Homo sapiens: one gene and its partner. The protein of the gene in region 1 purifies or fractionates together with the protein of each later gene. This does not show direct contact. Each region holds a gene or a part of one and is shown on either strand. Other genes may lie near its edges. The genes, in order: TRIM49 and MYLK2.

Region 1 (3,821 bases):
GGTTACAGTGAGCCGAGATCACGCCACTGCATTTCAGCCTGCGTGACAGAAGGATACTCTGTCTCAAAAAAAAAAAACAAAAAAAAACTAAAAACACCTGACACATTTCTCAGAACATACATCTGTCCACAAGCTATACATGATTCTACATGGGACAGAATTCATCAGGAAAATTAATTTGCTTGATTATGGAGTCTAGAGAGTTCCAATATAGGCTGTCTCTAAGCTGGTGTCCTGAGAATACCGGTATCCTGGCTAAGCTCAAGTCTGAAAGGTTCAGAACAAGTTTCAGGAGAGAGACGGAGGAAGTTGCCTTTTTTCTGCCTTTTTCTTTATATCTGAGGTGTCAGCTGATTGGATGGTGCCCACACACATTGAGAGATGAGGCTCCCACTCAGCTCACCAGCTCACATGTCTCTCTCCTCTAGAAACACCTTCACAGACTCACCCACAAACAATGCTTCACTAGTTCCCTAGGTGTTGGTTAATCCAGTCAGACTGATACCTAAAATTCACCATCACACTATGGAAATATAATTACACCTCTCTGAGTTTAACAAAAACCTCCTATATGTTAGTTCAGAGCTTGCACAGCCCTAGGGGAAGTTAATTTAATCCGCAAGAAAATAAAAAGACCCAATATCTTTAATAATTTTTCTTTTCCCTACTAGTGAAACTTGATTAGTTTAATTGCAGTCTTTTTCTTTGTTTATTTGGTTGGTTGGCTTTTTTTTAAATTTTGTTTTGATTTGGGTCTTTGTTTTTAATTTAATTTAATTTTAAGTCCTGGGATAACTGCAGGACTTGCAGGCTTGTTATGTAGGTAAACTTGTGCCATGGTGGTTTGCTGCCCGGCTTTTGTGACTCTCTATAAAAATATGTCATAGAACCATCTTCTCATATTTCTTTGGCCATCTTCTCATATTTCTTTGGCCCGGGTAGTTTTTTCCCTCCCACTCTTTCACAGTCATTCATCAGTTATTGAAAGAAGAATAGGGACAACTATGATTTATTCTGACCACTTAGAATCAAAACCCAATTTCCAGATCTATGTTCAGAAAATGGGTAGTTGAATAGGTTTGTATTATGCTACAGACAGGAACTAGGAGTAGAAGGGACTGTGAGTCCTCTGGTTAGTAATATCTGTTAGAAAGCCAGGAGACTCCCTCTAAGTGTAAATTTTTAAGTTTGTAACAGAAGAAATAGTTTGTTGTACTTTAATGAACACTGTCAAGAGAAGAAAATATAACTATCACATATCTCCACATGTTTAGAAGGTTTTCATCAACCCAGGCCCCAAAATGACATGTTTCTCTTTGTTCCTCAGAAACATGAATTCTGGAATCTTACAGGTCTTTCAGGGGGAACTCATCTGCCCCCTGTGCATGAACTACTTCATAGACCCGGTCACCATAGACTGTGGGCACAGCTTTTGCAGGCCTTGTTTCTACCTCAACTGGCAAGACATCCCATTTCTTGTCCAGTGCTCTGAATGCACAAAGTCAACCGAGCAGATAAACCTCAAAACCAACATTCATTTGAAGAAGATGGCTTCTCTTGCCAGAAAAGTCAGTCTCTGGCTATTCCTGAGCTCTGAGGAGCAAATGTGTGGCACTCACAGGGAGACAAAGAAGATATTCTGTGAAGTGGACAGGAGCCTGCTCTGTTTGCTGTGCTCCAGCTCTCAGGAGCACCGGTATCACAGACACCGTCCCATTGAGTGGGCTGCTGAGGAACACCGGGTAAGTGATGGCTCTGAAGATCGATTTCTGTAAAGGAAGCATAAAATTCCTGTGGGTCTATTTTCTTGGAGATTGGATAAAGCCAACTCTGAGTCCCTTTAAGCAGCTCTGTTTGGGCTTTCTTAGCTTCCAACCTCTGGGCTTTGACAAACATGAAGGGAAACAAAGGAAATGCCATTTACTAGGGGCTTATTTGTCTCTCATTCTGGGCCCCCTCCCTATGTCATGGTCTGCACTGGTGCTTCAATTTATGGCTCTTTTGCAGGAGAAGCTTTTACAGAAAATGCAGTCTTTGTGGGAAAAAGCTTGTGAAAATCACAGAAACCTGAATGTGGAAACCACCAGAACCAGATGCTGGAAGGTTAGTCCTGTACTACTCTACCTTCTCCAGGAACTTATGGTGGGCAAATGGGTGACTCTTAAAATAGGAACTTGATATCAAACTGTAATGTTTCTGGGATACAGTAAAAAAAAAAAGGCGAGAGAAAACACTGAGAAAAAGTGGCCTCATTTTTATATAGAATAGTATGCCTGTTAGGTAGGATTTCTAAGAAAACTACTGATGTCACCCAAAGCATGCTGGTTTGTTTCATACAAACCTATAGTTATACACCAACAGATCCAAGAAACTGGGCCATCTCAAAGCATTCTATATTTGCTGGTTGGATAAATGCTAGGCAAAAGGGTTATTTGGCAGTCATGGAATGCTCAACTGAAACTTCTGAGTGTCGGTCAGCATTAATCTGAATGCTAGTGTGCAAGTAGTATTTGGAATTGCATGGAAAATTTGAGGCAGAAAAAGTGACAGGGCAAATCTAGGGAAACCATGAAATTAAGAATCTCAACTAATTAATATTGAATAATACATAACATACGATGAGAAAAGCGGTGAGAAATACGGATTTGTGTCTTGAGGGAGACATGTAAACATGCCAGAAATATGGGAACTAGTATCTAAACATAAGGAGAACTCTGAGGACTTCAGAAAAACATTAAAATAATTTTCTCTTCGTGGATGTATATTTTGAGGGTATGATAGCTAAGATTAGTTTGTTGAAAAGTATTTCATGAGAACCTAGTCTATGTTGAATATTAAATTAGAAAATATACTAGTAAAGAAGAAAGGAAGCACCTTTGTCCTCACAAATCATACAATCCAAATAAGAGAGTCAAATTGTCAATACACAAATATATGCAATACATGATGTATTTGAGTGTGGTAGGTTTTTGTTGGAGAATAATCAAGCAGGGAAGTAGAAAAGGACAATAGAGGCCAGAAACTGGAGATTAGTGTTTGAGTTTTAAATAGGGTGGTCAGAAAAAAGACTCACTGAAAAATTCAAATTGAAACAAAGTTTTGAAGAGGAGGGGGAACACAAATGTGTGTGTGGATATATATGTGGACCATGAGTGTGTATATGTATGTATGTGTGTGTGGTTGTGTGTATATATGTATGTATGTATGTATGTATGTATGTGTGTGTGTTTGTATACATATATATGTAATTCTAGTTGGAGAGAACAGCATATGCAGTAATTTTGAGTTTGTGTATATTTGGAGGCCGGAAGAACCACAAAGAAGTCTATGTTTCAGACTGGGATGACTTAGAAAAAGAATAGAAGGAAATGAATTCAGGGAGACAAAGATGGCCAAATCATAAATGCAGCCTTATTAGGATAGGTTTTGCTGAGCGAAATGCACTTAGCTGGACATGCTAGTCTAAGGTCATTTTCATATAATGAGTTTAAGCAACTTGGTGCATATCTCAGAAATAGAAAGAATTGTTTCCTTTCTAGTAACTATAGCCCTATACTCCAACTCTCAAGCATGAACTGTTCTTACTTTGCCATAAATATGGGTTGGAATAGAGAAATTCAAATTGTGTTTTTTTGTTTTCAACTATCTTAGAAAACACATTATCTTGAATAAATTTAACGTAATTGGTCAGATACAGCTATGTTGATCTTTATGCAGAAAAAAGGAAAGGAACAAAATTTGTAGATTCTAAGAACTGGCAAGACAGAAGTTTGAACTATTGGACGTTCGAGAGACAAAAGGAATCAGTGAGATTTAATAGG
Region 2 (3,235 bases), on another chromosome or scaffold:
AACCTGGGAGGCAGAGGTTGCAGTGGGCCGAGATCACGCCATTGTACCCCAGCCTGGGTGACAGAGCAAGACTGTATTGAAAGAAAGAAAAAAAGATAGAAAATGCCCCATCTCTCACCAAAAGTAACTCCACAAAGACTGAGATCTTTGTCTCTTTTGTCCACTCCTATATCCCAATGCCTAGAAGTAGTAGATGCTCAAGAAATATTTGAAAAATGAAGGAGGGAAGCCAGAGCCCCAGATGGGTGGGGCTGGGTGGAAGGCCGGGTAGAGGTCTCCACTCTAGGACAGGAGCCAGCCCAGGGCAAAAACAGAAAAGTCAACCCTGTCTTCCGGACAGGGCCCAGCCTGGTCAACAGAACCTGCCAAGGCAGGGACGGTGGAGGCTGGGATCTGGCACCAGGAGCTCTTCCCACTAGCAAGCCCTCCCTCCCCACCCTGAATCCAGCGGTACCTTCCAGCGCCTCTTCATGAGGTATTTCTTAAGCAAGATCTGGGACTTAAGGCGTCGGTTACAGCGTTTGGCTTTCTCCGCCAGGTTGTTGAGCCAGGGATGGGCGAGACACTGGGCAGCGTTCATCCGGGCCCTGGGGGAGAGGCAGCATGGTGACGGTGGGCTGCATGCTCGTGAGGCCCCAGGGGCTCAGCTGGCCTCTCTACCTGGCTCCCGCCCTGCCAGCACTCAGACACACTAAGCTTGCACACATACAGTTCAGGTTCTGGGGTGAGCCTCACCTCTGGTCCTTGACGATGAGGTTGGAGACAAAGTCTTTGGCCTCGTCTGATACGGCCTCAAAGGTCTCTTCATCAAAGTACCAGTTGCCAGATAGAACGTTGTTTAGGGTCTCTGTGTCATCATCTCCCAGGAAGGGGGAGAGGCCGCTCAGCCTAGAGGGAGGGGATAGCAGGGGGCAGGGAGGTGAGATTGGAGGTGCTGAGTCACCTTCAGAGGGGTAGGGAACAGGGGCAGATCCTAGGAGGCAGCACCGTGTGCTGAAAAGACCCCCAGCCTCTCGTGGGACAGACCTGGGTTTGAATCTGGCTGGGTGACTTTGGGTAAGTCATCTCCCCTCTCTGAGCCTCACTCTTCTCATCTGTAAAATGGGCATAATCATCCCAGCTTCCTAGGTGGCAGTGATGAGGAATGACGAGTGCAAGGTATGTGGTGAGCACATAGGAAATGTCCACTGCCCCTCTGCCCGCCCCAGGTCATCCGAGATCTGCTGTCCAGATGCTATGCCTTTATAGGGACCTTGGTTTTTCCATCTATGAAATGGGTACCACGTTCCCCTTTCCTGTTCTCCCTAGCACTCCCAACCCCAGCAAACCCCTGACTGAGGGATAGGGGAGGTGGGACCACCTTACCAAGACCCTAGGGCCAATCTTGGCCTCGGCCGCTCGCCCCCATGCCCCACCAACCCCATAAACACGACCCGCCTGGGAGCTCACAGCATGTAGGTGATCACCCCCATACTCCACATGTCTGTCTTATCGGAGATTTGGTCATAATTCACCACCTCAGGTGACAGGAACTCTGGGGTCCCAAAGTTCACCTTCAGCTTCTCGTTGGGGTTATACCTGGGGGTGAGACCAAGGGCTGAGAGCACAGCTCCTGGCCTATACCCATGCCCCCTCCACCCCACCCCTGTCCCCTGCCAACTCAGAGGCTTGTCTTGCCCTCCCCACCCACCCAGGTGGTACCTCCGTGCCAGGCCAAAGTCAATGATCTTCACCAAATGCCCGGTGGTGTTGACACACAGGATGTTCTCTGGCTGAGGAGAAAGGGGGTGGCCTGGGTGGGCCTCTGACCAGCTCACCCTCCCTCTCCCACCAGGCCCGTGCAAACCCCAGGCTCCTTGAGGCAGAGGCCCAAGCTGCCAGAGTGGGCAGCTGCCAGAGACCCTCCAGCCCTGCCTGCTCTGGGCACAGAGAGATCTTGAGGCAAGTCCCCCACGAGGGGCTTATGCGAGGCCTTGAAGCACAGGACCTGCCGTGATGGGTTCAGGTGAGATTTCCCTCCATCTAAGGCCATGAAAGAACACGACATTCTAGCAGTTCTGAGGATGGGGAAACAGAAGCCTGTGGAGAGGAGGCATGACAGCCTGCTATCCCCGCCCCCAGGCTGGGGGGCCAGTGCAGGACCACCACCAGATACATGAAGCTCCAGAGAACAGAGAAAGAAGATGCCAGCTCAGTTCCTGACAGGAAGCCTCTTGGGAACACGGGGCTTCACACTACTCCAGGGTCACTGGAAGATGCGCTACTCTTGTCTCCCCAGTTAGTGAGGATGATGAGCTACAAAACATCAGGCCCAGTCCACTCACTTTCTCACTTTAGCTCCCCAGTCCTTCCCAAAGATCTAGGAGGCACACACTGTTATCTTGAGATGAAACTGTGACATTGAGATACTATTACCATCCATTCCCATTTGGCAGCTGAGAAAGCTGAGGCTCAGACACAGAAGTGACTCGGCCACAGTTGCCCAGCAAGTAAGCGACGGAGCCAGGAAATGAACGCATGACTGACTCCAGCACTGGCCTTGTGATGTTCCGCTACCACCACTGATCCTGCACTCTGGGGTGAATATAACACTACAGGGTTGGCTCTTCCAGGCCAGGGATTGTCTTCTCCTGGCCTCCTGGGTCCCACCCTCAGGGTCTAACAAAGGCACCCAGTAGGGGCTCAGCCAAGTTAACACATGGATGACGTTACTGTAAGCCCAGTTCCTCTCCACTCTGGGCCTCTGTTTCCTCTTCCTATCACACAAGGACACAGGACTAATCTGAGGTTGCAGGGTATAAACATTTTTAAGTTAACAATGGTTCAAAGGCAGGAGATTCTGCACAAAAACCCTGAATTCCAGCAGCTCCTGAAACACCGGAAGCCCTGGCCACATGGGCCATATGCCTTGGAACAAGTTGCCACTAACAGCCTGAGATGAGACAAATGTCCTCCAACTCTCCCATGGTCGCCACCACCCCCTGATCCCTCCCATTCAACATGTATTTGTTATTTGTCTGGGCTCTGTGGGCATTTGACTCAAGTCCCCTAAGGAGACGCTTTCTGAAGGCACTCTTAAAACTGATAGATTCACTCAGAGCAGATACTAATGATTTTAATAGTTTGGCCTGGTGTCCCACAAAACAGGAAAGAAAAGAAGGGTCCCAGGGTACAAGCATTTGGGGAAATGAAGCAGACTCAAATTTCCTTTCAGAGATTCTCCATCTACACACAG

Evidence for each region.
Region 2: the proteins of TRIM49 (region 1) and MYLK2 purify together in Homo sapiens (affinity purification with mass spectrometry; one large-scale study listed by BioGRID and IntAct). This does not show direct contact.

Annotation. Positions count from the first base shown.
Region 1 is NC_000011.10:89,801,980-89,805,800, reverse strand, and holds part of TRIM49 (tripartite motif-containing protein 49), read left to right. Parts: intron 1-1,327; 5' UTR 1,328-1,331; coding exon 1,332-1,742; intron 1,743-2,007; coding exon 2,008-2,103; intron 2,104-3,821.
Region 2 is NC_000020.11:31,829,356-31,832,590, reverse strand, and holds part of MYLK2 (myosin light chain kinase 2, skeletal/cardiac muscle), read right to left. Parts: intron 1,773-3,235; coding exon 1,702-1,772; intron 1,579-1,701; coding exon 1,450-1,578; intron 889-1,449; coding exon 736-888; intron 588-735; coding exon 455-587; intron 1-454. UniProt on the Homo sapiens protein: Implicated in the level of global muscle contraction and cardiac function. Phosphorylates a specific serine in the N-terminus of a myosin light chain.